4 linked regions of the Homo sapiens genome follow. The protein of the gene in region 3 interacts with the protein of the main gene of each other region in a biochemical or structural test. Each region holds a gene or a part of one and is shown on either strand. Other genes may lie near its edges.

Region 1 (7,728 bases), on a different chromosome or scaffold from region 3:
TTTTACAGTCCCTGTTCTCAGATTAAGTTGAAATATTTTTGAATTATAATTCATATGTGCAATATCCTAATATCACCTGTAAGTAGGTATTTCTTTGAGGGGGAAAATCTATAATACAGTATATAAATTTTCCAGGAAACTAGAAAACATTTGGGGGCTTTATTTTTAATTTAGAAAAAAATTATATCAAAGAGAATAATGCATCCTTTCCCAAACCCTAAACCTTTATATTTTACTATTGGTATCTAGTCATATGATAAAGATGGCCCATTTCTATCTACCAGAAATCTTTTAAAGTAAGGATACCGGTAGAACTATTCAAAAATTCTAAATAACGCCAAATTAAGATTGTTTTCAGTTTAACAATTTTTCAATAAAATAAGTTCGAGGTTTTAAACTCAACATGGGCAATGCGGGAATTTGCACATGTGCGCCAACAGAGGGCCATGTGATAATTTGAATCAAACATGCACACACACTTTAGCATCTGGTTTTCTTTCTGCGTGATTTCAAACTTCTCCAGGACAGCAGAGGACAATGCCTGCGTTTATGTTCACATCACAGCACCATTCATGGCTGCTAATGAACAAGGAACCAAAACATGGATGGTACAGAGCCCTAATTAGTCATGCCATGCACCCCTCAACCCATCACTGCAACCCCTTAAATTTGAGGCAACACAAAGTAACCCCAAGACACAGACAAGCTCTGTGCAGATCCAGCCCTTTGACTATGAATACTACTGCTGATGCTGCCAGTAAGTCACAAACCTTACAGCAACAGATTGTCGACGCAGAGCCGTCTTATTTTCGTACATTCATCATTATTTTGCCACATTTGACCTTTCAAACTTGATGCTGGCCTTCCTTCTTTAAAAAGCAAAAGCAAAGTTCTAAGCAAAGTGATTAAAACAAAAATTTAAAGCCATAAGTTTGAGAATTCTCCCTCAATTTGAAAACTACTCTGTTTAATATGACAGGTAGAAAAAGCTTTGCCAAGGTCTATTTGTCTATTTGAAATGTAGGCTTTTTAAAACAGCAATTATGCTAACACCCCAGAAGTAAACACAACCTCAAAGCTGTCAGGGATTTTTGGTTTGGTTTGTTTTTTTCTTTTTGTTTTGGCCCCTGGTTATATAATTTAAATAAGCAAAACAAGAAGAATATTCAGTACCTCTTAAAATAAACTCAACCAAATATGCATATATTATGCTCATCTATACCCCTTTGGTAAAATATAATAATCCATAGTTTGAAGGTTAAATTAAAAAGCAGACTGAAAAGGTGAAGAAGCCCTCTTTTAACAACAATGGCCACATTCATCTGTAAGTACTTTTTATATAGTTAAAGGCAATCCACAAAGTTAAGTATTTCTGTTAATATTTTGGTTCCGAAATTACCAGACACTGCATTTTACCTGAGGATGTGTTCTATTTAATTTTTACACTGGAATCTGCAGCCAATATTTACGGAACAGACATCCTGGGGGTTTCTCAGTGTTATTGAGGACACGGTGGGGATAGAGTTTGTGTCTCATTTCTTTCTCAATACAAAGCCATGCCTTGGAGTGGCAGGATTGAAATACTGCAACTTCCATCCTTAACCCCTGTCTGCTCGGCTGTGGAGGCTGTTAAAGCTCTGAGCTGCCCAACCGGCAGAAGGAAATAACCGCGTGGCAGATTACTTGAACTGTGCTGAGCATTTTTCCTTAAATATCATAACATGCTTGCATAAGGGTGGAATTTTATTGACTACATCGTGATTTTATCATCTTTGTGTTGGAGGAAAAAACTCCTTTCCAGCCTGTGGCTCCAAGCGCAGCGCCCTAGTTCCCTTTTAGCACATTTAAATGGAAGACTACAGTCACCAGAAAAATAGTCCCAGAATTCTCATTCCGCTGCTGTAAACCAGAACCTTTCCTTAGGGAATGAAAGACAAACCCCAAGAAAACCTGGACTGGGTGAGAAAGTAAAGCCCGTCGAAGAGAAAGCAGCACAGCATTTGGCCTGCTCTGCAAGGAGCTGGGAATTCTTGCTGCGGGGGGCAACAAGATACCCACCCTCCCGCCGGGGAAGACACAGCAGGAGTAGGGCCGCCACTCCGTGCATCTCTCCTCCCGGGGGCTGCCCAGCTCTCCCCAGCGCGTTTCCTAGATACTAGGCAGGCCGGACCCCCGCTGCCCAGGGTTGGGCGCCCATGACACTGGTCAGACATCTGGTAAGCCAGGTGGCAAAGGCGTGCCAAAAAAGTGGAGCCTAGGGAAAACCGGGACGGAGCGGGCCACCCGAGTGGTAAACCTTTTCCCAATGGATGCGGGAAAAGCGCATTTGTAGTTCCCTCCTCACCGCTGTCAAGCGAGCTGATTGCTAAGGAGTGCGCATTTGCTTGCCTCTAACGTGACAGTCGCGGGAGCGCCCCGCACCCCGGGCTTCAGGGAATGAAGGAGTCTGCCCCGAACTGGCCCCAGAACCCCCAGCCCCCAGGGCGGCCCGCGCCCGCACCCACCTTGACCACGTAGGTGACTCCGGGCCCCAGCACCTGGTCGCTGGCGTGCGGCGCCCCCCGAGGGGGCCTGGGCAGCGGCTCGTCGCCGGGCCGGCCCTTCCTGGCGGCGCTCATGGCCGGGGCGCGGGGCGCCGAGGGCGCACTGCCGTCCGGGGCGGCCAGGCTGGGCGCGCTGCAGCTGCCCGAGAGCCGCGCGCCCGCCCGCTCCCGGGCGGCCGACGACAGGCCGCGGAGGCCCGAGCTGGAGAGTTTCAGGTGGGACACCTTGTGGAGCAGGTGGCCCAGGCTGCCGGGCCCATCGTCGGGCGCCTTGCGCAGCGCCTCGCCGGACACCAAGTAGGGAGCCGCCGCCGGGGTCGCGCGCGCCGCCGAAACCTTGCCTCCGCCGCCGCTCACCGACAGGCTGTGGAGAAGGTCATCGACCGATGTCACCGAGTCATTCCTGAAGCGGTTATACTTGGTGCGTGGAAGCATGCCCCTCCGTGGGCTCGCTGCATCCGCCCGGGCGCTGCTGGTGCCGGCCCCGGCGCGGGCTGCCGCGCATAGCAGGCGAGCCACTGTCCCCGGAGCGGGACGGAGAGTGGGGGCCCCGGGACAGCCTTCTGGAGAACGAGAGCAGAGCAAGAGGATGGTGCCCTCCCACCGTTAAAAGCCAGCACAGCGGCGGCCGCGCAGCCCCGGCCCGGGAGACCGCTGCTTGGGGTTGCACGTTTGCTTTGCAAAAGTCATAGTTGCCTCTGATGGAGCGCCCAGCTGCTTGGGGCTGCTCACAGCAAAAGCATGACTCACTCTGAGAGGAGACCCTTCTCAACAAAGGCTCGGTGAGCACTGCAAATCACTTCCTGTAGCAGAAGAAAAAAAAGGAAAAAAAGAAGAAAAAAACGACATCCACCCGCTGACAGCACACTATAGCCAATCAATTCTCAAATTTCCTTTTTCTACCTTCCCAGATATTTCCTTCCAACCTTTGATTTTTCACCTTCCCATCCCCCGCAATCTGCATTTGTGCCAAAGGTAAATCCAATCCAGTTCCTTCAAATCGTCAAATGAACTTTCTGAAACCCATTATTCTGTTAGGTTTTGCTCGTCCCTGCTCAGCCCATCTGTGTGAGCCTGTAAAAGTGTCTAACAGCGATGCGTTAAAATGTGACGAAGGCTTTTTAAGAATCAGATCTTCAGCGAATCCTGATGAATCTTGACTTGGAAGGCAGCAGGAATTTTTAAATAGAAAAAAACAAAAAGGATATTCACCCCCAGGTGACTGTAAAATACCAATTTCCTGGGTTTTGCTTTTTCTTTTCAAATTAACAGAGCAGCGATGACAAGTGTCTTTGTGGCAATGCAGTTCCTCAAAAAAAAAAAAAAAAAAAAATCTGCATATGAACTTCTGCACAGTGCCAATCAAGGGGTCTTCCCTGCTCATTTACAGCAGTCTTTCTCAGCCAGGGTTAAGTTGAATATCCACTTCCAAAAAAGAAGAGTGCTTCTTTCACGAGTGGCAACAGGCTCCAGAAATCCATTCCAAAAAAGGGGCTGCATTTGAAGCTTTAATCCTACTGAATGTGTTTAAGCTCTGGAAAAACGCCTAAGAAATGCTACAAATACATTTCAATGTTCCTTCAGTTGCTGCTTGCAACCCTGCAGTCAGGAAGGAAAAAATGCAGCTGTTCTTATTGCACATCAAATCCACAAGGAGGAAAATATGCCTTCTTTTCAGGAGTCAGGCTCGGGCTTGCAAGTAAAATGCACAGGCCTTCTTCCTCTCAGTTAGGAGAGCAAGGCTTTCGCTGTCCCCAGAGGTCTGCCCGAGACTGAAGCCCTCTGACTCTTGACCTCAGTGGGCTCTGCCAGGCTTCCTCATGCATTAGGATCACCTGCTCCACAGTGAAACACTCACTATCAAAGTTTTCCCGCAACTTCTGAGCAAGCGAATAAATTCAGCTCTAGCACACTCTCAGGTCACCCTGAGTCCTCTCACTCCCATGACCGAACATGTGGGGCACGTGAGGTCCTGAGTCTTGAACCCTGCTCTATGGAGCAGAGTTTAATGAGCGCCACTCATGGCGGGCGAGCGGGTGAGGCCAACCCCTAGGACGCAAGAGCGCAGAGGAGCCGCGGCGTCCCCGGTACAGGAAACGCGTCCCCACGGCTCGCCTCCTGTGCCGCAGCCCTAGCAGAACAGCTACACGGCACTCATTTGTTCCCTTTCCCTAGCTTGCATAGCAACAGCAATTGCACACCCCATAGATGATTTTGATGGTTATCAGAGTCCTCCCCAGATCTGTAGCGAAACAGCCCTATCATTCCCAAAGCGAGATCTTCATTAGATGCAGACAAAAACCGCAAAATGTGAATGAAATGCTGTTTGTGTGAATGAAAAGGCTAGCGAGCGAGCCAGCGTTTCTGTGAATGAAGCAGGGCCTTGCAGCCGGTGCCAGGCAATCCCCTGGGCTCCAGCGGCCTCAGCCAATGAGCGGCCGCCCCGATGACTCATTCAACAAAGGCTTGCTCAATAGTGGAAGATTCCATTTCAATCAAAGGCGGGATCTTTTATCCAACGGCAGTGTGGGAAAAAAAAAAAGAAAAAGAAAAAAAAACACCCAGCCGGATTACAAAGATACCGGGAGGAAGAGGCCAGCTGCTATGGAGAGGAAAAGCTAGTTTTACAAGGGAATTCAAGATCCCTTGGTCAGGTCTAAGTGTGAAGAGGGTCTCTCTTGGAGGTGAGCTGTGCCCCTAAACTTTCATTCAGCCGTTCATTTACATCAAGGAGCAACCATGAATGTGCCAGTCGTTCAGCTTTTATTATGAATGTACATTGAATGCACGTTCAAAACCTAGGTTCCTAGCCCTTGATTCTTTTTTTGTAAAAGGCATGTAGGACACCTGTACACGTTCTGAGGCTCCAGGGAGGAAAAAAAATCCAAAGCTATGTACTTAACGTTTAGCCAACAGGAGACTTTTATTTCTTTTATTATGAGGCCAGTGGAGGGAAATTGGTCATTTTAAAATATAAATAGCAACATAAATTTACTATATATGAAAAGATATATAATCAAAGACAGAAATTAATATTCCAAGAACACAGTAGTACGGTAAAACCTCACTTACCTGGAAAATAGTATCAACATTTTGGAACGTAGCAGAAAGATGGAAAAAGAAAAACCCGAAGGCCTCTCAGCATCAAAAGGAGGCTGTGCAGCCCACACAGAAGCTCACACACCCTACTCATGAGAAAACCCTTTGCCCTTTCTGGGGAGCTGTTCATGTTTATTTTAGACCCTGTACCAGAAAGCCCACATATCTTCTTGATCAACATAGAGACAGATGAGAGAGGAGACCACTGGGACAGAAAATGCTAAATGTAAATGAAATTTTCTGTTGCTGGCTTGCTTGATAGCCATGGAAGGAAGCAGGAAAAAAAAACTCCATTTTAAAGTCAGCCTTGAGATTCACCAAAGCCAGGCAGTCTGGGGCAATTTACAATGAGAGCCTTTCCAGTATGTTGTGGTTTTTCTTTTTTAAATCAATGCTTAAACACGTATTTGCTTTCTATGGCTGCCGTAACAAATGACCACAAAATCAATGGCTTAGAATAACACAATTTATTATCTTCCAGTTTGTAGGTAAGAAGTCCAAATGGGTCATGCTGGGATCCAGCATGGGTGTGGGCCGAGCTGGTTCCTCTGGAGGCTCTGAGGGAGAATCCACAAATTTCTGAGAAGGTGCCATGAGCTGGGCCCTGGGGAAAGTGGTTTTGCCTTCTGGAAGGCAGAAGATCTGAAATTAATGTTATAACCTAGTTAAGACTATGTGAATTTTGTAATATGTGTGAGATACAAAAACTTGACCAAAGGAGTGAGCTTGTCCTGAGGATGCGGAGGTGACCCCTGACCCCAGTGGAGGCATCCTCCAGGTGACTTCACAGGAGGAAACTGTGTGGGCAAGGGCTCCAGGCCTGAGCAGTCCAGAGTCTCCCAGAATCCCTGGTAGGTTGGTTGGGTTGGTGAGGAGGTCAGGAGGCTGGGCACTCATAAAGGCTTAGAGGGGTGATGAGGTTTGGATGTGTGTCCCCTCCAAATCTCATGTTGAAATGTGACCCTCAGTGTTGGAGGTGGGGCCTGGTGGGAGGTGACTGAATCATGGGGGTGGATCCCTCATGAATAGCTTAGCACCATTCCCTTGGTGATAAGTGAGTTCTTGCTCTGAGCTTACATGAGATTTGCTTGGATAAAAGAATATGGCGGCCTGGTGTGGTGGCTCATGCCTGTAATCCCAGCACTTTGGGAGGCCGAGGTGATGGATCACCTGAGGTCGGGAGTTCGAGACCAGCCTGGCCAACAGGTGAAACCCCATCTCTACTAAAAATACCAAAACTAGCCGGGCATGGTGGCAGGCCCCTGTAATCACAGCTACTCGGGGGGCTGAGGCAGGAGAATCGCTTGAACCCGGGACGAGGAGTTTGCAGTGAGCCGAGATCGCACCATCGCATTCCAGACTGGGCGAAAAGAGCAAGACTTTGTCTCAAAAACAATAAAAATAAAATAAAATAAAATAAAATAAAATAAAATAAAATAAAATAAAATAAAATAAAATAAAATAAAATAAATGTGGCGCCTCCCCTCTCACTCTCTTTATTGCTTCTGCTCATGCCATGTGACACTCCTGCTCCGCCTTCACCTCCTGCCACAATTAAGGCCCTCACCAGAAGCCAAGCAGATGCCAACACCATACTTCCTGTACAGTCTGCAGAACCATGAGCCAATTAAACCTCTTTTCTTTATAAATTACCCTCTGGCATTCCTTCTTAGCAATGCAAGAACAAATGGACACAAGGGGCTTGAGAGAGGGTCACATAGTCAGGTTTGCCTTTTATGGAGACCACTTTGATAGTGACTTGGGGTGGCTCTGGGAAGTTGAGAGGAGGTAGGAGACAACAGGACAAGTTAAAAAGAACAAGGGCTTGAATGAAAGCAAGAGCAGTGGAGCTGGAAAGAGAGGGATGGATTCAAGATAGCTGGGAAGGTAAAGGATCTGTCTCTGTGATGAGGAAGTGTAAGAGAGAGCGAGGCTGGGTAGGCTGTCTGCAGCTAGAAGCTAAGACAGAGTTTGGAATGCAAGATGCTTATTAGAGATCAAGCTCCACAGAAAGCAGGGGAGGCTGCAGGAGGGAGCAGAGGCAGAAGTGGGCTGTGACCCAGGCCCCACACACCTCGTCCTTCCA
Region 2 (7,426 bases), on a different chromosome or scaffold from region 3:
TTCTGAAAGCCAAACATTCTGCTGCAGGTAACTAATAAACCAAACCAATGTTTATTCCTTCAGGCCATACCTAAGATATTCCATGTGGCGCTGGCTGTAACAGGGAAAGTAAAGAAAGAGTCCCAGCAAATATTAAAAAATACAGAGGTTGATCTGCGAATATTTATACTTGTGTATCCTTAAATGCCCTTCACTTACACTCTCTGTAGTTACTTTGATCAAACTAATCCGTGTACATAATTTTAAAAGTCAGAGTATTAAAAGGCTTATGAAAAAGAGCAGCTCCCTACCAACACCCACAGGCGATCACTCTCGATTTTGTTTTTTGCTTTCTCTTTGTATTTACTTATTTTTCTTTTTTTAAATCTTGTGGTCAATGCACAAAATGGATAGAGTATTTCTAAAGAATGTGCTTTTACTGCTTTCTCAGTTTATTCCAGCCATTATCTATTGCCTGAAAGGTGAAGATTTAGTTTCCCCCGACCTATACCAGTAATATCACATATTCTGGTTTAATCAGTAGTATGTTATGAAATACTACTCACTGATAATTTAAATAATGCACTAAAACCAATCATACTTTTTGTGTTTTTTTTTTTTTCTTTTTTGAGATAGAGTTCTCTAAGATTGCCCAGGCTAGAGTGCAGTGGCATGATCTCGGCTCATTGCAACCTCCACCTCCCAGGTTCAAGCGATCCTCCTACCTCGGCCTGTAGCTGGGACTACAGGCATGTGCCAACAAGCCTGGCTACTTTTTATATTTTTAGTAGAGACGGGATTTCACCATGTTGGCCAGGCTGGTCTTGAACTCCTGGCCTCAAGTGATCCGCCCACTTTGGCCTCCCCAAGTGCTGGGATTACAGGCATCGGCCGCTGTGCCTGACCCAATCATACTTTTTTGTACAATCCTTAGATTTTTCCCAGCATTAGCAACTGCTTAATGTTCTATTTTTTACTTGCCTAGTTCCCTGTGTATCTACTTTTACTTTTTCTTTTCTCTTTTTTTTTGAGACAGGGTCTTGCACTGTTGTCCAGGCACGAGTGCAGTGGCATGGTCATGGCTTACTGCATCCTTGATCTCCTTGGCTCAAGTAATCCTCATGCCTCAGCTTCCCAAGTAGCTGGAACTACAGGTGTGGGCCACTATGCCCGGCTACTTTTTCTATTTTTTGTAGAGACAGGGTCTCACTATGTGAGACCAGTCCAGTATAGCTTAGTGTTGAATTTGCATGGTCTCTAGAGGCAGGCCCCTCACGCTAACTGCTACAATTTTGGGCAAACTTTTCAAACAAGCTCCAGTTTCGTCATCTGTAAAATGAGAATAATATCTACCTTTTAAGACCCAGGCTGGTCTCAAACTCCTGGCCTCAAGCAATCTGCCTGCCTCGGCCTCCCAAAGTGCTAGGAATACAGGGGAGAGTGAGCCACCACGCCCAGCCCTATTTTTACTTTTAATGAATGCTCCAAAATCTCTCCTACTATCAAGATTTTCCTCAGCCTATTTATTTTAACTGGTCTCTAATGCCGAGACTATGTATTAGTGATAGGAAGCTGAAGAATATTTACAATGATAGGAAAAGAATAAGGAGTTTTATTTTTGAAAAACAGAAATCAGATAGAAATGAAAAGCCCTGTCACTTTCAAGGTGCTATGTAGTACGACCAGCCATAAGCTTCTGTGTCATTCAGGATTTAAGACAGCTGCAATGTTACTACTCAACAGCAGTACAAAAACCAAGACAGTTCTCAATACCTGCTTTCCTGCTGCTACTCAGCTCATCTGCTGAAAGCTTAAAAAGAATAACCTTCTTGAAAGTCGTGTTTTGAGTAACTATTGCTTTGTGAGATGCAGAGTTTGACAGAAAATTAAATCCCTACTTCCATGGCTGTGCTGAGTAAAAAAACAGAAAACTCAAAGAGGAAAGCTTATTAGGTTATCCACCCAAAAGAGCATATTCGCTAAAGGAATTCCAAAGGGTGTGTTTCAGTAAAGACAAAAAAAAATCTAACACATACACAACACTAATTACTAAAAGGAAGAAATCTGAAAGCAGACACAATGTATAATGATTTTAACAGAGTAGATGTTGCTGTTCACTTCCCAAGAAAATGGGGTATAGTGTACTTAACACTGAAGCCTAATGAGAGTAACCTCGAAACTGTTACCAGCCCATCCCAAGCAGTGAATTTTAAGAAAGGTAAGTACAGCTTTAATCATTCATTTCAAACAATGTCTACTGTATCCAAAAAAACTACTATCCTAAAGGTATTTGCAAGATTTTTTTTCTTTCTTCCATTTAACTCTCTTCTTCCCAAAATTCACAGAAAATAAAATACATGACAACAGTCCAGTATAGCTTAGTGTTGAATCTTCATGGTCTCTAGAGGCAGGCCCCTCACACTTACAGCTACAGTTGTGGGCAAAGTTGTGAAACAAGCTCCAGTTTTCTCATCTGTAAAATGAGAATATCTACCTTATAAGATCCACTGAGGATTAAATTAGACAACATATATAACATACATTAAGTGCTCTGGATAGAGCCCGACATGTAATAATCACTCAAAATTTATTTATTTATTTATTTATTTATTTATTTATTTATTTTTTGAGACAGCATCTAGCTCTGTCGCCCAGGCTGGACTGCAGTGTCACGATCTCAGGTCACTGCAACCTCCGCCTCCTAGGATCAAGCAATTCTCCTGCCTCGACCTCCCAAGTAGCTGGGACTACAGGTGCGCGCCACCAAGCCTGGCTAACTTTTGCATTTTTAGTAGAGATGGGGTTTCGCCATGTTGGCCAGGCTGGTCTCAAACTCCCACCTCAGCCTCCCAAAGTGCTGGGATTACAGGCATGAGCCACTGCACCCAGCCTTCAAAAGAAATTTTAAATGTTACTCTATTTAAAACATATGAAAAGAAATGCAAATTAAAACAATCAGAGTTTTCATATACTAATTGGCAAATTTTAAAAATATTTATAAAATCCAATCTGCAATACTTTGAGTAAACACACTTTTATTTATTTATTTATTTTTCAGAAAGGGTCTCACTCTGTAGCAAAGGCTGGAGGGCAGTGGCGTGATCTTGGTTTACTGCAACCTCCGCCTCCTGGGCTCAAGGGATCCTCTCACCTCAGCCTCCTTAGTGGGGACTACAGGCACCAGCCACCATAGCCTACTCATTTTTTTTTGTAGAGATGGGGTCTCCCTATGCTGCCCAGGCTGGTCTCAAACTCCTAAGCTCAACAGATCTGCCTGCCTTGGCCTCCCAAAGTGCTGGGATTACAGGTATGAGCCACCGCACCAGGCACAAAGACTTTTTACCCTACCCGGTGTCCACTGACTCAACATTTTGAGAAGTTACTAACTGACAATGTGGCTTGGTGTTACATTATAATAATAAAATCACCACAGAACCCACACTACAGCAAGGAATTAATGAGCTCAGCTCAATCTTTTTGGTGAGTTCTTTGGTAATCTATTGACAACTTTTATTTATTTTTATTTATTTTTTGGAGACAGAGTCTTGCTCTATCCCTCAGGCTGGAGTGCAGTGGCGTGATCTCCGCTCACTGCAACCTCCACCTCCTGGGTTCAAGCGATTCTCCTGCCTCAGCCTCCCAAGTAGCTGGGATTACAGGTGCCTGTAACCATGACCAGCTGATTTTTCTATTTTTAATAGAGACAGGATTTCGCCATGTTGCCCAGGATGGTCTTGAACTCCCGACCTCAGGTGATCCGCCCACTTTGCCCTCCCAAAGTGCTGGGATTACAGGCGTGAGCCACTGCGCCCAGCCTATTTACTTTTATTATTTGAGACAGAGTCTCGCTCTATTGCCCAGGCTGAAGTGCAGTGGAGCAATCATGGTTCACTTCAGCCTCAAACTCCTTGGCTCAAGCCATCCTCCTGCCTTAGCCTCCCAAGTAGCTGGGACTACAGGTGCACACCACCATGCCTGGCTAATTTTTGTGTGTGTGTGTGTGTGGTGACCAGGACTCACCATGTTGCCCAAGCTGATCTCAAACTCCTGGACTCACGTGATCCTCCCCATCTCAGCCTTTCCAAGTGCTGGGATTACAGGGGTGAGCCACCACACCTGGCCTTGACAATCTTTTCTTTTTTTTTTTTTTTTTTGAGATGGAGTCTCGCTTTGTCACCCAGGCTGGAATGCAGTGGCACGATCTTGGCTCACCACAACCTCTGTCTCCTGGATTCAAGCCATTCTCCTGCCTCAGCCTCCCAAGTAGCTGGGATTACATGCCCCCACCACCACGACTGACTAACTTTTGTATTTTTAGTAGAGGCAGGGTTTCACCATGTTGGTCAGGCTGGTCTTGAACTCCTGACCTCGTGATCCACCCGCCTTGGCCTCCCAAAGTGCTGGGATTACAGGCCGTGAGCCACCGCGCCCGACCAACAATTATTTATTTATTTTTTTGAGACAGAGTCTCGCTCTGTCGCCCAGGCTGGTGTAGTGACGCAATCTTGGCTCGCTGCAAGCTCCGTCTCCCAGGTTCATGCCATTCTCCTGCCTCAGCCTCCCGAGTGGCTGGGACTATAGGTGCCCACCACCACACCCGGCTTATTTTTTTGTATTTTTAGTAGAGACATGGTTTCACCATGTTAGCCAGGATGGTCTCGATCTCCTGACCTCGTGATCCGCCTGCCTCAGCCTCCCAAAGTGCTGGGATTACAGGCATGAGCCACCGTGCCCGGCCCTGACCGACAATTTTGAAATATTAATACATACTCTTTTTTTTTTTGAGACAGGGTCTTGCTCTGTCACCCAGTCTGGAGTGCAGTGGGTGCCATCTTGGCTCACTGCAGCCTTGACCTCCCAGGCTCAGGCCATCCTCCCGCCTCAGCTTCCCAAGTAGCTGGGACTACAGGTGTGTGCCACCACACCTGGCTAATTTTTGTAAATACATACTCCTTTTTTTGAGATGGAGTCTTGCTCTGTCACCCAGGCTGAAGTGCAATGGCACGATCTCAGCTCACTGCAATCTCCGCCTCCTGAGTTCCAGCAATTCCCCTGCCTCAGCCTCCCAAGTAACTGGGACTATAGGCGTGCACCACCATGCCTGGCTAATTTTTGTACTGTTAGTAGAGATGGGCTTTCACTAGGTTGGCCAGGCTGGTCTCAAACTCCTGACTTCAGGCAATCCACCAGCCTTGGCCTCCCAAAGTGCTGGGATTACATGCATACCACCATACCCAGCCTCATGCTCCTTTTTTCTTTCTGAGACAGAGTCTCGCTCTGTTGCCCAGGCTGGAATGCAGTGGTGTGATCTCATCTCACTGTAACCTCCACCTCCTGCGTTCAAGCGATTCTCCTTGCCTCAGCCTCCCAAGTAGCTGGGATTCCAGGCGTGTCACCACCACCTAATTTTTGAATTTTCTTTTTTTGTGTGTTTGTGTGTGTTTTTAATGTTTGTATTTTCAAATAAAGACGAGGTTTCACCATGTTGGCCAGGCTGGTCTCCAACCTCAAGTGATCCGCCCACCTCGGCCTCCCAAAGTTCCAGGGTGACAGGCGTGAGCTACTGTGCCTGACCAATACATACTCTTGACCAAGCAATTCCACTTCCCAGATTTATCTCACTGAAACAATGAGACAAAATACAATGTGCAACATACACATATACACCCACACCCTTGATCAATATCCATGAGCTTGTGTATGGAGTATCTACATAAATACCAGGATATATCAATTTTTTTTTTTTTTTGAGACGGAGTCTTGCTCTGTCGCCCAGGCTAGAGTGCAGTGGTATGATCTCTGCTCAAAGCAACCTCCACCTCCCGGGTTCAAGCCATTCTCCTCAAATTTTTAAAGCTGCAGAAAAATTATAGTTTATCCTATTTCTGTAAGGCAAAATAATACATCAGTATGTGCTTAAAAAAAAAGGCTAGGCCGGGCGCAGTGGCTCACGCCTGTAATCCCAGCACTTTGGGAGGCCGAGGCGGGTGGATCACGAGGTCAGGAGATCGAGACCATCCTGGCTAACAAGGTGAAACCCCGTCTCTACTAAAAATACAAAAAATTAGCCGGGCGCGGTGGCGGGCGCCTGTAGTCCCAGCTACTCGGGAGGCTGAGGCAGGAGAATGGCGTGAACCCGGGAAGCGGAGCTTGCAGTGAGCCGAGATTGCGCCACTGCAGTCCGCAGTCCGGCCTGGGCGACAGAGCGAGACTCCGTCTCAAAAAAAAAAAAAAAAAAAAAAGGCTAACAATGGTTATCTCTGCTAGCGAGATCACAGAACACTTTTACTTTCTGCATGATACACCTCAATTGTATTTTCATTATTTTTACAATAGGCATGTGTTACTTTTGTAGTTACAACACAAACCAAAAAGCTTACTGACGCTCTGGAGTTAGACTTGGATTCAAATGTCACTTTCCACTTACTAATGAGGGGACACTGGAGAAGTAACTTATACTCTGTAATCCCTAGTATCCCTTAACTGGAAAATGGGAATAATAACAGCCAACTACCTTATAAAGTCATTTTGATAATTAAAAGAGATAATGGTTGTAAAATGCTTGGCAGAAGTCTCTGGCTCTCTCCAAAAGACTGAGCTAACTAATTATCCACTATAGTGTGGGCTGTGATGATTTTATTATTATAATGTAGTATAAGCCAGAGACCTTAACTAGTATTTTCAGTCTCTTTTCAAATACTAGCCTACATGTTCTAAGAGTAAATGTGGAGCTTCCATCTGCATAGGCAGATATCCTGATGAAACCATCATCAGTTGAAAATATTGTTACATGGAAATGCATTTTAATACACCTAACCTACCAAACACCACAGCTTAGCCTAGCCTACCTTACCTTAAATGTGCTCCAAACACATTAGCCTACAGTTAAGCAAAATCATCTAACACAAAGCCCATTTTATAACAAAGTGATGAATATCTCCTGTAATTTACTGACTATGGTACTGAGAGTGAAAAACAAAACAGTTATATGGGTACTGGAAGTATAGTTTTTACTGAGCGCTATTGCTTTCACACCACTGTAAAGCTGAAAAATCTTTCGTCTGAGTCTACAGACTCAGAAGAATTCTCTGGTAGGCAAATTAATGACCCTATTAAGTATAAATTTCAAGTTAAATCACTCCACATCACAGTATTAAGAATGCTAAAAAATTTACACATGTAAAAATGAATCATGCTTATAGTCACTCATTCCATTAGGCTATTCTAAATACTGACTTTGTGTATACACAGAAAAATGTAATTTTAAGTTGAATTACTTAAAGCCACACAGCAGTCTTATTATTTATGGCTGCATTTGGTAACAACAGTTTTGATCCTTAGACCATCTGTATCAAAATCCACCCATTCAGAGACTGATTCACTGTGGGGTACATCCTGGAGTTCTACCAGAACCTAATTTTAAAAAGATCTCCCAGTGATTTTTATG
Region 3 (7,426 bases):
ATCTTCTAAAACATGGCCTTGGCCTCTATCCTTCAGTTTTACTTTCCTATTTATGTTTTGTCCTCATTTGTCGTTCAAAGCCTTACATCAATATCAAGAACCTCAGAGCATTCACAAACTGCACTTTTTATTGATTGCAACTAAATTCAACAAACATCATTATGAATTATTTCTTTGTCCGTGGGTATATTTAAAGTCCCTGGTACTGTTTGATGTTCAACACATGCTGGGGGCACATAAAACAGATATTAACTTGGCAATATAATTTGTGTTAATTTATTTTCACACACCAGGAATCGGGCACTACAAAGAAAAGCCCAAATGGCCACGGTGTTGGCTAGATGAACCATTGATGACTGTCTCATTTGTCTTAGGAACTTTTTGTAGCTTAGAAAAATTTAAGATACTTCCAGGAAAAGAGATTCTATAAATTATTGGATTATATTAGGCAATAATACTTGCTTATTTCCTATTGTGCTTAAATTTGCCAAAAATAACGCAATCAAACAACTTCCCGTCTCCCCACAGAAAACCCAAAACCTCCAAAAGCCAAGGGCAAAGAATAAAAGGAAGAGAAAATCAAACAGAATGCCTGTAAAGCTATAACAACAACCTGGAGCCTTATTTTTGATCAACGCAAGGGGATTAAAGAAATAACCTCCTACCCCTCCAGAAGGTTGCACTTGTCCACGCATTCCCTGCCTCGGCTGACATTCCGGCAAGAGACGCAGTCCCTGGGCTCCGGGCCCCAGCAGCCCTCGGGGGAGCACAAGGCATGGCAGACCTGGCCTGTGGCCTCTGCGGAGACAGAGTGGGTCACAGCAGTCAGTGACAGAGCAGGGACCCGAGGGGCCGGAGGAGACGGCACCTTCCCGGGAGGGGCCCTGTGCTCCATGACCTTGGGTGACACAGACATGCTGGCTACCCCTGAAGGAGGAGGACACAGACTGGGCTTCCCAGAGGCCGACCGTGACTGGAAGGACAAAGTAGTTGTGCTGGCTGCTGGGAAGACTGAAATGTGCCTGACAGTGGAGGACAGGTCTTCCTCCTGGTGGGAGCCAGGCACCCTGGCACCCGAGAGGGGGTGCCGTGAGTCCTCCCCTTTGGCAATGGCATCAATTAAACCAGATGGGACTCCATGTTTTCTGTGCTCCCACGGCCACTGCCCCTGCTGAAGGAACCAGGTGTGCAGAGGAGCAGGTGCTGCTGGGCACAGGGTGTGTTTTGATGGTACCCAGGGCAGCCTGGAGCAGAGCTGGTGGTGTTCTGATGACAAATCCCACAGCTGATAGGAGCCATTGGGCCATTGGCTGTGTGCTGTGTGCTAGGCACCATGGAAGGGTTTTACACACAGGAATTTCACTGAATTCTCTCAAAGCACTACGGCGTAGGAATCATTCATATCTCCATTCTATGGATGAGGAAGCCAAAGCCTAAACAGATTAAGGGAATTGACAGAGGCTCAAAGCTAGGGAGGCCAGACCAGCACTTGACTCAAAGCTGACGCTGCCCGTGGCCAAGGCCCAGCACAGGCCAGGCTCTCACCAGCTTCAAAAGCTGAGGCTCTAGAGCCAGAACAGGAAGTGTTGATGTAAAGTGCTCATTCCATTCCTCTGTGTGTGTATGTGTGTAGCTGTAGTCTTTACAGGCTGAAATGAGCAGAGAGTGACCTACAACTAAAAGGTAATATAACTAATACTAAATTTAGTTACTTACATTACAAATAATTGGTAGCCTAAACCTCAGGGTAAATTCATCCCATTGAATGGTAATGATCTGGAAAAAGTTTTAATGGAATTCACATGGTAATTTCACAGTTAGGAATCTTAAGATTTTAATTTGCTTCTTAAGGAACTGAAAAAAGTAATTTAAATGGGAATAGCCCTTCAATATTCTAAATACAAATAAAGGACCCATTAGAACCAACTCCATAAACTAAACAGAAAGCGGTGACTTACTGCAGCTGTTTTCACCTCTGTTGCTTATAATTTTGGTTTTCTGACCGGAGGTCCCAAACAGTTTTTTCCAGTTTATTGTATTTGCATAGCACAAATTTTTGTTTCCTGAAATTATCACATCTCCATCACTTATCTCCTTGAGGGAGCGTAATCCCAAGGATGTTATGTTCAGGCTGACGACTGCAAGAGAAAACTGACCACTACATTGGAGAGAAGAAAAATCATGTGGTGAAAAATTATAAAAACAATGTATCCCTGAAAACTTTGTTTCTCCAGACCACCTTTGATTGACTACAAACTGCTTTCCAATGATGGTAGGTCATGCTGTGGGAGGCACACACTGCACCTTTTGAAAACTGCAGGTGTTTTTAAAGTTCCTCCAGGCAAAAGATAGTTCCTTGTTTATTTAGTATCTTTAACCCAGTGGCAGATGGGGAGGATGAATAAAATGCCTTAATGTCATTATATTTTCTCCATTTTCATTTTGCCTGGAAATTGAGAACATATTCTAACCTCTCAAACAGCCAAATACACTTCAAAGGTGTGGGTTCATCCATCTATCCACCACCCAACCTGTCCCTCTATCCATTCATATATTTATTGAACAAACACTAGAGGTTCTCTGTCCCAAATTCTGTGCAGGTTAAATATGTTTCCTCCTCTCCAGGACGCTTGATCTGGTGGTGACACAACCCCGTAAGCAGATCATTTTGAGCCGGTGTGAAGAGCACAGTGAGTGTGGGCAACATGGAAGCAAAGAGCAGGGGCCTCTGACCAGGTCTGGGAGGGATGCCTGGGAAGTGGGGCCTTCCTCCAAAAAGCTATGCCCAAGGTTGTGAGGCCCTGAAAGCAGTAACTGTGGCATTTTCTTCACCATCCAACATGACACTAGGATGCTATTGGGTGGTCCAATGTGTATATCAGATGACTGGATGGAAGTCATTCAGACCGAAGGGGGGATGTCCTCAGCCACCTGGAGGAGCAGGAAAGCACGCGGTGGACATGAGAACCACTAGCCCCAGCCAGACCACGATGGGTGTGAGAACCACTAGCCCCTCCTGAACCACGATGGGTATAAGAACCACTAAGCCCCTGCCGGACCACGATGGGTGTGAGAACCACCAGCCTCTGCCAGACCACGATGGGTGTGAGAACCTCTAGCCCCTACAGGACCACGATGATGCAGGCTGGGAGGGCTGGGCTGGTTTGGGGAGGGAGCACAAGGCCAGAGTGCACCTTGTGGAGGAGCTGTCTGTAATTGAGAAGGAGCCACAGGAAAGAGATCTGCATTTGCAGGAAGCTCTCATCTGACCCCAGGCTGGGGGCTGGGCCAGCTGAGAGCACTGGATGAAGAGACTGATGTTCAGGTGTTGGATGGCAGGGGGTTAGAGTATCATCCAGAGGCTTCTCCTCTCCCTGCTGCTCTTCTTTCCCCCATCTTTTTCCTTTCTCCTACACAGATGAGTGGTCTCGCATAGGAGCCTGTAACCAATACCATTAGGAATTCTCCCCCACATATGCCCAGGGAGGCCAGGACACCAGGGCAGAGCCAGGTTTTCCTTGCAGGGCAGGTCTGGGGCCTCAGTGAGTCACACCCTGGAACGTGTGGCCACCCTGTCTCAGTAGGAGCTGGAATCACCAGACTTCTCATTAAATGTGAAAAGTAAGTAACCCTTATCTTGTTTAAATCCCTACAACTAAGCCAACTGGCTCATACCAGCCATCCAAGAAAATTGCTCTAAATCTCTTATTTTTATAAGAATCTTGGTCAAAGAAAGCATTCCAGAGAATTCAGAGCAAAAAGGCCTTTCTGGGAAGCAACGGTAGCCACATATTTAGTATCAGAGATTCAGAGCCAAGGGAGTTTATGGGAGGCAATGCATATTTCACGCACTCTTATTCTCTTTAATGTTGCACAGTATTATCTAGTGCTTTAAGAGTCAAGTAGGGGCAGCAGTTCTCATAACGAGGCTGCTTCCAAGGCGGGTTTCACTAAGAGATTCCCATCTCCTCCTCCACACCACTAAACTGATGATTACCATTACCATATTAAAGATGCTTGTGTGTGAGCACCTGCATGTCTATTCCACTGTCAAAGCTGAAAAAGTGGAAATTCTTGAAGAGTGGTGCTAAAAAGTCTCTCTGGTCCCTGTGATAAGATGTGCATAACCTCAATTGCATCCTGAGAAAACACCAGCTGAACAGACATGGTTAGACAGTGTGCAAAGTACCTGACCCACACGTTTTGTAAGTGTCAAGGCCGTGAAAGACAAGGAAAGACACAGGAGCTAATATAGGTTAGAAATGGACTGAAAAGATTTGACAACTAAGTGCAATGTGGGATCTGGAGTGGACACAGAAGCAGAAGCACTGGCGAGCGCTGAGAAGTCTGTGGTTTAGCGGACAGCCTGTGCCAGTGGTCGTGCAGTCTTGCTCCCTGTGCCTGCTCATGTGAGATAGCATTTGGGAATGCCGGCGAGAGATGCAGGAGCTCTGTGCCCTATCTTAGCAACTCTCCTGTTAAGCCTAATTTCCAACTAAAAAGGCAAATGTAATCTACCAGGCTTTGGCTGTGGTCAACTTACTGTTGCTTGGTCCTGCCGCGTATGATTTCTAGGTTCTCAAAGGCATGGAGGTCCGTCCTGTTTTCAGGCCAAGCCTGAATCAGCAAAAACCCTGTAAGGCAGATGAAAGACTTCAGACACACACCACGTAGGAGTTTCTTTTTTGTATGAGACATTACTCTAGACTCTCAGGGACTCTGTATTATATGAACAGTAAGTGGGAAAATTGGATTTGCTTTCTTTTTCATTATCATCTTCTCTGAGTGTACATGCGCAGGGCGGACGCAGGCCGAGCCACAGTTCACAGCTGCCTCCCGCCTTCCGCTGCGATTCCGCATGTCTCCCGCCGCCCCCCTGGCTGTGGCCCTGAGACCCCTGCTGCGCCGCGTATCTGATTACCCCGAAGAGGCTCCTGCTGCGATTATCTGCCAATTGTGGATCTGGTATCACATACAAGGAGCTTTACAAATTTTCCTTATTTGATTCCAACCTTAAAACAGTCTTGTTATTTTGGTCTAATCTTCCCATTTTAGAGAGGAAGGAAGCGGAGCTCAGGCGGCAGTCATAGACCCGAGGCTTGCCCGTGGCCCCACAAGGCTCTGGCGTCCAGTTTCAAAAGCCTGAGGCCCAGGCTGCCTGTCACCTACCCCTGTCCCCTCCCTCTACCCTCAGGGGTTATGGGCCACCAAGGCAGCTGGCTGGGGCCGGGCGGGAGGGAGAAAGCGTGTTTACACCGCAGTGAATGACCCAAGCCTGGACTTAACGTGTCCCCTTTTGCCTGCAGGAGAAACTGCACTTTTGAAAAATATCAAAACATCAGCCATTAACGGTAAAATTTCAGAAGAAATGTTTTTATTCCAAGGGAACAGGAAATATGTCGAAAAGTTCTCTCTCTAAAACACTGATTTCCCATTTATATTCATGTGATAATTCAGCTCAAACCTGTGATTTCCTTTACGGTTTTCAGAATATCCAGTTCCTGTGGATCCAGAGGAGGAGTATGTGTGAAGGAGTCACTGAAACAAACAACAGGGTGATTATTGATCACCAATCTCTACCAGTTAAAAAGGCAGATTTTGTTTTTCTTTATACAAGCAACTGAACCTGTGACTCACCCCCTAAATGCCACCGGCAGGATGTGGAGATCGCCACTGATGGAGGTGCAGTTTTTGAAGTGTTTAATATTCGTAGCATTTATGGAGAGTGAGTCTTTAAATTCACCAATACCTATTCCGTTACACACTGCAGAGATAAGAGAGACGTGTATTCCGTTCACATTTGTTGGATTAAGAATAGCTAGGGATCCACAGGCAGAGGGAAGCAGGAAGGAATTCCGGTCACCGGAACCGCCACTGCCACATCATCCTTCATTCACTCAACAAACACTGAAGGGGCTGGGGAGAGTGCAGGCGGGAAGGGGGGACACCAGGACCTATAGTACACTTTGGGGCTACGGCGGTGTAGGAGATGCCATCCCTGTCACCTCACACTGACCTTGCGTTCTCCTCATTATTTCCCATGGGCCGCTTGGAGCTGCACTGCTTCCAGCTCTGCCTTCCCTGGATTCTCCCCAGGGCTGGGCACCTGGCAGCTGCTGAGCGGGGCTGGCTCTGTGACTGTTCTCATCAGAGCCCCCCACCCCGTCACAACCTTCAGTGCCTTCCCATTGCCTAACCTAGCTTTACAGCTTTATCTTCTGTTTTAAAGAAACGATATGTATAGTTGTTTTTTAATGAGAAGAGGAAGATGTGTTCCTTTGGAGGTGGCATGAGAGCCCAGCCTCAGCAGCCGAGAACAAGCCTCGTCCGCACACCGGCGGGCTTCCTACCTTTGCGGCAAGGCCCTTCGCACTTCTTACACTTGCGGACGCCGTCTTCCTCCATCTCATAGCTGTCGGCCCCACAGGCTCGGACGCACGAGCCGTGATCTGTCACCACATAATTACCTGGGGAAGAGAGCATGAAAGGAAGGTGATGACGGTGGCACCAGGTGCTCGGGCCTCACACAGGCGGTCCAGGTCCTCTTGAGGGGTGATGGAAAGGCTCCATCCTCCTTTGGCTTTATTTACTTTAAGGACAAAGAATGAAAGGTTGCAAATAGAGAAGGAATCCCGTTCAAGAGTTTAATAACATTCTAGGCCGCAATGTGGACAATACAGGTGTTTCATCATGGCAGGAAACACTGGGTCCCTTGAGGGGCCAGCTGTTTTGCGTCCCAGCAGGCACCTCAGCCCTCTCCTCCACCTGCTCTCACCTTTAAAGTAATTCATTTGTATTAATAGCAGACTTCTGCGTTATTTTTAGGAGCTCTATGTCTTCCTTTTTTGTTTGTCTGAGATGGAGTCTTGCTCTGTCACCCAGGCTGGAGTGCAGTGGTGTGATCTCAGCTCACTGCAACCTCCGCCTCCTGGGTTAAAGCAATTCTCCTGCCTCAGCCTCCTGAGCGGCTGTGATTACAGGCGTGCGCCACCACGCCCGGCTAATTTTTGTATTTTTAGTAGAGACGAGGTTTCACCCTGTTGGCCAGGCTGGTCCCAAACTCCTGACCTCAGACAATCCAGCCCCTTCAGTCTCCCAAAGTGCTGGGATTAAAGGCATGAGCCAATGAGCCACTGTGCCTGGCCTGTTCCTGTTTTAAGTTCCCCAAGAAGATCCTCAAAAATATTTATAGGACATTGATGATTCTTCTGTGAACCATCTGCTCTTGGTATCTCAGGCTCGAAGTGTTTTCCTATGGATTTTAAAGCTCTGTTAAGCCCTATCTCAAAGATATATCTGTGTCATCACTGTGGCACATTTTTCTTTAGCTTTGTTTGTCATTTACCTTATAATGGCTTATTATTTTGTGTTTTTTTTTTCCATACGGAATGTAAAATTTTTCATGTACACAAATCTGGCAGGGTAA
Region 4 (7,426 bases), on a different chromosome or scaffold from region 3:
TGCATTTAAATATGCTTTCCATCTTTCAACAGAGGTACAATCAAAAAAGATAAAGGTCACTGACTAACAAAGAAAGAGGTAAAGTAAGGCAAGATTTTCTCTCCCACAGTGAAAGAAATTAAAAGAATGAGGACCTTATTTCTCAAGCAGCAGACATGCATTTAATCTGTTCCAAAATAATCCAAATCCATTTTTAAAGATGTAGAGTTACCCATGTATTAGTCAGTTTGGGCTGCTATGACGAAATACCAGAGTCTGGGTGGCTTAAACAACAGAAATTATTTTTTCACAGTTCTGCATGCTGGAAATTGAACTATCAAAGTGCTGGCAAGCTTGGTTTCTGGTCAGGCCTCTCTCCTTAGCTGACAAATGAAGGCCTCCTCACCATGTCCTCACATGACCTTTTCTTGATGCACTCATACTCCTGGTACCTCTTCTTATAAAGGTACCCGTCCTATAGGATTCACCAGCCACCCTTATGACCTCATTTAACCTTAATTACCTCTTTTAAAGGCTGTATCTCCAAATTCAGTTACATTGGTGGTTAAGGCTTCAACCTATGACTATGGGGGACAGGGGGGAACTATTAAGTCCAAAATGCCAGTTACTGCCAGCCCTGAAGTACGTTAAGTTTTATCTGGGTGCATATATGTGTGTACATTCTACGTAATGGAAAGGGGCAAGACAAAATAAAAAGCATAGTATTTACATTAAAATTCCAGCTCTATCACTCAGTTTCCTCAACAATGAGGATGATGCCCATTCTCACTATATCATTGTAAGAATTAAATAAGATAATCTATATAAAGTACCTGACATCTAGCAAATGATTAGCAAATACTGAGCCTTTGCTTCTAGTCCTCTCTAAAATTTAAAAAAAAATGAATTATAAATATTACTCAAATCTAAATATATGTGAAACAGTATGAGAATCGGATTCTGTCCCAGTTCTACCACTACCTAGTTATATGAACTTAGCTAGGGTGTAGGGTGGAGTGAAGCAAGTCACTCTACCTAAGGCTACTTCTGTATCTAAGCAGAGAAGCTTCCCTCTGTAACTAAAACTCTATGTTACACATAACAACTTGACTACAATTTGAAACACAAATGTTACAAAAGTTAATCACACTTTCTCACTGTAATAATCCTAAATGAATGATACTGAAATTTCCTTCAAGAGAATTATGGTATGAAATTTCAGTATCATTCTTTCATTTACTTTCATTCTTTCACTCTTTGGCAACTATCCTCTGAATTTGAAAAATTTACCTGCACAACGTATCTGTAGACTACTTTTATCATCTTATTTCCCTACCAGTAATGCCTCATCTTCCAACTAGACTGTAGAATTGTATATTTCTTTTTGTCCCCCATACTGTTCATTATTTTACTCACTAAATCACATAACCACTAAAACACCTAAAATCATCATACCCTAAATCCTGTAGAGATGTGACAAGACATACATAGTTATCAATAAGTTGTATCTAATAACAACAATTTTTAACGCAGCACAAAACTGAAATGTACTGCCAGTGATTTCAAGGTAACACAGAAATACCTGCATATTCAAACAATAAACAACATCCGTATTCAGTATTTTTGGTTTAAAATTAAGGTAATGGTAGCCAAAAAGCAACATCTATTGTGGAGAAATTTGACTCATTTAACAAAAGACAACTTAGCTTGCTGGGCCTGAAGGAAGAACTCATAAGTATTTGTCCTATCTCCCAGCCTGTCCCTCACTACTAGTATTCTATTATCTCGTATTACATGAAAATAAGTAATACACATGGTACTGTTACTTTGATGCCCTGAGGAAAGCTCAACTTGCTGTATTCATGCCATTTTATAGTCCCCTCCCATATTTAATGCACACTGGGTTATGTGACCAGCACTCACCATTGGAACATTAGCAAGGATGAGGAACACAGAAGCTTGATAAATACCGGCACACTAGGGCTTGGAAAGGTCTTTCACGGAACTGCCATAGCTGCCATGCTATGAAGAAGGCCAAGCTGGCTGGGCACAGTGGCTCATGCCTGTAATCGCAGCACTTTGGGAGGCCAAGGTGGCAGATCACGAGGTCAGGAGTTCGAGACCAGCCTGGCCAACATGGTGAAACCCCATCTCCATGAAAAATACAAAAATTAGCTGGACGTGGTGGCACGCACCTGTAATGCCAGCTACTTGGGAGGCTGAGACAGGAGAAATGCTTGAACCCGGAAGGCGGAGGTTGCAGTGAGCCATACCACTGCACTCCAGCCTGGGCGACAGGGCAAGACTCCATCTCAGGGGGGAAAAAAAAAAAGAAGGCCAACCTTCTTCAAGTGGAGAGACGACATGGGTAGGAAGAGAGAGGGAAATGCCCAGCCATCTACCAGCTGCTCCAGCCATCCCAGTTGAGGCACTAGATTTATGAGTTAAGAAGCCACAGTGGACATTATAGCCAACAGATCACATGTGGAGAAGTCACCATAAAGCCATACACAAATTTTAGAATCAAGGGCAAATACACAATTGTTTTAGCCACTATGTTTTGGAGTGCTTTATTATGCAGCAATAGATAACCAAAACAATACAAATAAACCAATTAGAACTGTTCCTGTTTGGCAGTAAGCAACAACAACAAAAAATGTCAGTGGTAACCATTGTTATAGTTAATAATCACTATAAAAAATCTTCTTCCCAAAAGGTACTTTTCTGGGTATTTAAGTGTTCTTAAAGGGACTCTGTTCATTTCACCAATGGCCAGTAAAGAGAGAGAAGTAAAGCAACCAGAAAGTCTACTCTTCGTTTTTCCTTTTCCCTTCCTAATTTATGGCTGTCCTTTTTAGCTTTGCCAGTAATGTTTGCCTGTTTTCCCCAGAGTGGCTAATCAATGATCCATACCGATTCTAGCATTCAACTGTGCTCTGTACCTCAGTCACTACAGACATCACCGTCAACTTCCCTCCAGACCACAGGTAACTAAAAGTTCTGTAGACCAGACTCTTCACTAAGGGTGAAAAGTTTAAACTCATCTAATTCATAATTATGTTTTCCTGATAGAATCATTAAGCGAAGAGCATCAGAACCAATAACCTCTTGCTCAGAAAATAAATTAAGTAGCAGGAAAAACATACCTGCTATTTTTCCTCAAAGAATTTACTGATCCTAATTACACAAATTTCTTTTTCTTTTAACCCTCATGACCTTTGCTCATACTTCACTCGTGATATTTATCTTAACCTAGCCTGAATCACAGTAATTGGTTTACTTAATTTCCTACTAGATCTAATACTCCCTTTTCTCCCATTGAGAAAAGGGGCATTTTACTCTTGCAACCCTTGAAGCACCTACTATATTTCTCTGCTACTTATACAAATACAGTAAAAAATATGAGTTCTGGTCATCAATCATTGTCCGTAACTAATCTTAGCAAGTCTCACCCCCATTTTTATTAAGAAACAATGGCTCACCCATATGTATAATGCAATCAGTGACAAAGTTAATGAATGCTACATGTTCTAACATTAACCTTCACCAATTATTTGACTTAATAAGAATGATTTTATTTTTGTAGAGACAGTAAAATGATTTTTTTAAAAAAGAAAGGTACTATTTACATTCCTTATTTTCTTTTCCTTAAAGTTTCAGACTTGAGAAGTCTGAATATTAGGTTCAGCATAAGATCCAGGCCAGATGCCAGGCAAATACTGCAATAGCAAAGGCAAAGCAGACCTGGTGGAGACTGCAAATGGAGACCTCAGTACCCACCTAAAAGGGTCAACCGCTACTCAGCTCTGGCAATCTAGTCTCAAGCAGGAATGGCCACCAGGTATAGCCAAGTCCTGTGGGTTTTCTAGAGATGCTAGAAGTTGAGACTTCTTAAATATGAAATCTTCCTATTGGCCGCGAGGTGGCTCACGCCTGTAATCCCAGCACTTTGGGAGGCCAAGGCAGGCGGATCACCTGAGGTTAGGAGTTCGAGACCAGCCTGGCCAACAGAGTGAAACCCCGTCTCTACTAAAAATACAAAAATTAGCCAGGCATGGTGGTGTGTACCTGTAACCCCGGCTACTGGGGAGGCAGAGGCAGGAGAATCACCTGAATCCGGGAGGCGGAGGTTGCAGTGAGCCAAGATCACACTACTGCACACCACCCTGGGTAACAGAGCAAGACTCCATCTCAAAAAAAAAAAAAAAGAAAAAGAAAAAGAAAAGAAATCTCTATTCTTAAATGGTGACAATTATCAAATATTCCAAATACTCTAAGGGCAAGCAGTATATATCTGTGGGTTGGATTCTCACCAATGGCCACTTGCTACTGCAGACTCACAGTTAAAAATCTCTACATATAACTGATGGTGCACTACACAAACAATATACCTTTACCACCACTGCCCCTCACCCTGCAGAAGAAAAAAAATGAGAACCATGAAAAGAAACTCCAAAAAATTATGGAGTACTAGTGACAAACTTCTTTAATTTAACCTTTTCTCTCTCGAAAAAGAAATCTGTTAACAGTTTTAGATATAGAAACTTTTATAGTAGAGAAATAGAGAGGAAGAATTTTTTTTATTTTTATAATTTTCTCAAAACTTTCAAAAATATTCAAATAAATAGTACAAATTACATAAACATTTCCAGCCTCAACCAAACTAATGAAAATGCTCAGTAATAAAAATGAGACTAATGATTCACCACGTACACAGAAAAACAAGGTACAAAATACTAATTAATAGTGTTAATTTATTTGCACTGGTGTATCTACATATTGTCATTTGACTCTTTTGTGATCAATAGCACAAAACTGGGAACAAAGTTGAACTAACTTCCTGACCATGGAACACTCGAGTAACAAGCCACTTGTGGACTCAATCCTGTGACCTAAACCCCCTTAATACCATGCTATCCATAACTAAGGGGACCAGTTACTCATAGTCAGTATTTAGTCCAACATTTCTTCAATACTTTTACAAAAGATAAATATTATTTGAAAATGTCTTTAAGGCTTTTCCTTCCACTTAAAAATATGAATATCTACATTCAGGAATAGGAATTTATAGAGAACACTTGAATTTCACCTCTAAAATTGCTTAACCTACTGCTAGAAGCCCTTATAAAGTTAAAATAAAATTCTTAATATAATTAATCGTGGTAGGCTTGATTTGGAGTTCAAAACATTCTGTAAAATAGTCATTTAACAAGGGAGATTCTCTAACCAAAAGAATTAGTAGACAATTTAGTGCTAGTAAAATATTACAGTTATGGGCACAGGGGACTACGTATTTATCGAACACTTACTATGCCCAAGTACTGTGACGAATACATCAAGGTATTCATTAAATCTTAAAAAAAAAAAAACAATCATATGAGGAAGGTACCATTCCTATCCCCATTTTACGGATGGGGAAACTGACCTTTCCAAGAATACCCAGCTAGTAAGTGGCAGAGTCAGGATTCCAACCCAAATCTTGTCTAACTTCAGAATCTGCACGCTTAACCACTACACTGCATTGCCTCCAGTGACTCTGGGTTGATAACTAAGATGAAATAAGAAGGAAATTTGTACTTCTCAGTGGCAAATTTTAAAAACATATTATAAATGGAGGGTATTTTTTAGAACATGAACAAGTTTCATATACATAGTCATACAATTTTTATTTCCAAATACATGTAGTAATGGTGAAAATCCCACACAATGAATTTCTCACAATTTTTCATAAGTACTCAATCATGGTGTTTTTTTTTTTTTTAGACAGGGTTTCGTTCTTGCTGCCCAGGCTAGAGTGCAACGGCAGATCTCGGCTCACTGCAACCGCCCCCTCCCTGGTTCAAGCAATTCTGCCTCAACCTCCAGAGTAGCTGGGATTACAGGCGCCCGCCAACACGACCGGCTGATTTTTTTTTTTTAGTAGAGACGGGGTTTCACCGTGTTGGCCAAGCTAGTCTCGAACTCTGACCTCAAGTGATCCACTCGCCTTGGCCTCCCAAATTGCTGGGATTAGAGGCGTGAAGCACCACCCCCAGCCCAATCGTGTTTATTACTAAAAATTTAATGGGAACACCCTGTATTTTCCCCTCAATTTTGCTGAGAACCTAAAACTACTCTAAAAAACAGTCTATTGGGCCAGGCGCGGTGGCTCACACCTGTAATCCCAGCACTTCGGGAGGCAAGTGGATCACCTGAGGTCAGAGTTCGAGACCAGCCTGGCCAACATGGCAAAACCCTGTCTCTACTAAAAATATGAAAATTAGCCAGGCCTGGTTGCGGGCACCTGTAATCCTAGGTACTCAGGAGGCTGAGGCAGGAGAATCGCTTGAACCTGAAGGCGGGGAGGGGCGGGGCGGAGCTTGCAGTGAGCCGAAAACACGCCACTTCACTCCAGCCTGGGCGAAACAGCGAAACTCCATCTCTCAAAAAAAAAAAAAAAAAAAAAAAAAAAAAAAAGAAGTCTACTAAAAACAGTTTTTTTTAACTACAATATCCTAAATATACCTAATTTAGTTATAAACTAGCATAAGACTAGATTCTTTCAGTATGAAAAGTTGCATTGTTTTTCATAACCATTGTACCAAGCATGCTATTAGCATTTAATAAAAATTGAACTATTTTTTTCAAAAGCAGTGCTGTAATATTGTTTTTTTGTTTGTTTGTTTGTTTTGAGACGGGGTTAAGCTCTTATTGCCCAGGCTGGAGTGCAATGGCAGGATCTCGGCTCACTGCAACCTTCGCCTCCCGGGTTCAAGCGATTCTCCTGCCTCAGCCTCCTAAGAAGCTGGGATTACAGGCACCCGCCACCACGCCAGGCTAATTTCGTATTTTTAGTAGAGACGGGGTTTCTCCATCTCGGTCAGGCTGGTCTCAAACTCCGGACTTCAGGTGATCCACCCGCCTCGGCCTCCCGAAGTGCTGGGATTACAGGCGTGAGCCACCGCGCCCAGCAAAATTGGAATTAACACTCCCAGAATACTCCCAGGGACTCTGCATTACAAAGACATTAAAATATGAACCAAACTCTGACGAAAGACTTGAATCCTTTATTGAGGAATATAAAAAGTGGAATACTACATCCCGTTGGCTGGCATAAATATGACTAACTTTACTTTTCCCCTTTAAGTATCAAAAGATGTAGCCTTAAGTCAAAAATGGATTAGGGTAACAGAATCTTTTCCTAATTAGTTTCAGAACTTTCTAAATGCTCCAAAGAAGCTTATCCAAAAAAAAAAAAAAAAAAAAAAAAAAAAAAAAAAAAAGGCCGGGCACCGTGGCTTACGGCTGTAATCCCACCACTTTGGGAGGCTGAGGCCGGCGGATCACCTGAGGTCAGGAGTTCGACATCAGTTTGGCCATATGGCGAAATTTCGTCTCTATTAAAAATACAAAAATTAGCCAGACATGGTGGCATGCGCCTGTAATCCCAGCTACTAGAGAGGCTGAA

What was found.
Region 1: the proteins of EGFR (region 3) and SHC3 form a complex in vitro, tested with the Homo sapiens proteins (4 studies listed by BioGRID and IntAct, with this or other methods).
Region 2: the proteins of EGFR (region 3) and GRB2 form a complex in vitro, tested with the Homo sapiens proteins (12 studies listed by BioGRID and IntAct, with this or other methods).
Region 4: the proteins of EGFR (region 3) and RASA1 form a complex in vitro, tested with the Homo sapiens proteins (4 studies listed by BioGRID and IntAct, with this or other methods).

The regions. Positions count from the first base shown.
Region 1 is NC_000009.12:89,175,483-89,183,210, forward strand, and holds the start of SHC3 (SHC-transforming protein 3), read right to left. Parts: upstream 3,337-7,728; 5' UTR 2,979-3,336; coding exon 2,505-2,978; intron 1-2,504. UniProt on the Homo sapiens protein: Signaling adapter that couples activated growth factor receptors to signaling pathway in neurons. Involved in the signal transduction pathways of neurotrophin-activated Trk receptors in cortical neurons.
Region 2 is NC_000017.11:75,395,253-75,402,678, forward strand, and holds part of GRB2 (growth factor receptor-bound protein 2), read right to left. Parts: intron 161-7,426; exon of another isoform or gene 1-160. UniProt on the Homo sapiens protein: Non-enzymatic adapter protein that plays a pivotal role in precisely regulated signaling cascades from cell surface receptors to cellular responses, including signaling transduction and gene expression.
Region 3 is NC_000007.14:55,154,871-55,162,296, reverse strand, and holds part of EGFR (epidermal growth factor receptor isoform a precursor), read right to left. Parts: intron 6,468-7,426; coding exon 6,351-6,467; intron 5,765-6,350; coding exon 5,638-5,764; intron 5,539-5,637; coding exon 5,465-5,538; coding exon of another isoform or gene 5,454-5,464; exon of another isoform or gene 5,358-5,453; intron 4,635-5,357; coding exon 4,544-4,634; intron 2,159-4,543; coding exon 1,959-2,158; intron 799-1,958; coding exon 666-798; intron 1-665. UniProt on the Homo sapiens protein: Receptor tyrosine kinase binding ligands of the EGF family and activating several signaling cascades to convert extracellular cues into appropriate cellular responses.
Region 4 is NC_000005.10:87,270,462-87,277,887, reverse strand, and holds part of RASA1 (ras GTPase-activating protein 1), read right to left. Parts: intron 1-7,426. UniProt on the Homo sapiens protein: Inhibitory regulator of the Ras-cyclic AMP pathway. Stimulates the GTPase of normal but not oncogenic Ras p21; this stimulation may be further increased in the presence of NCK1.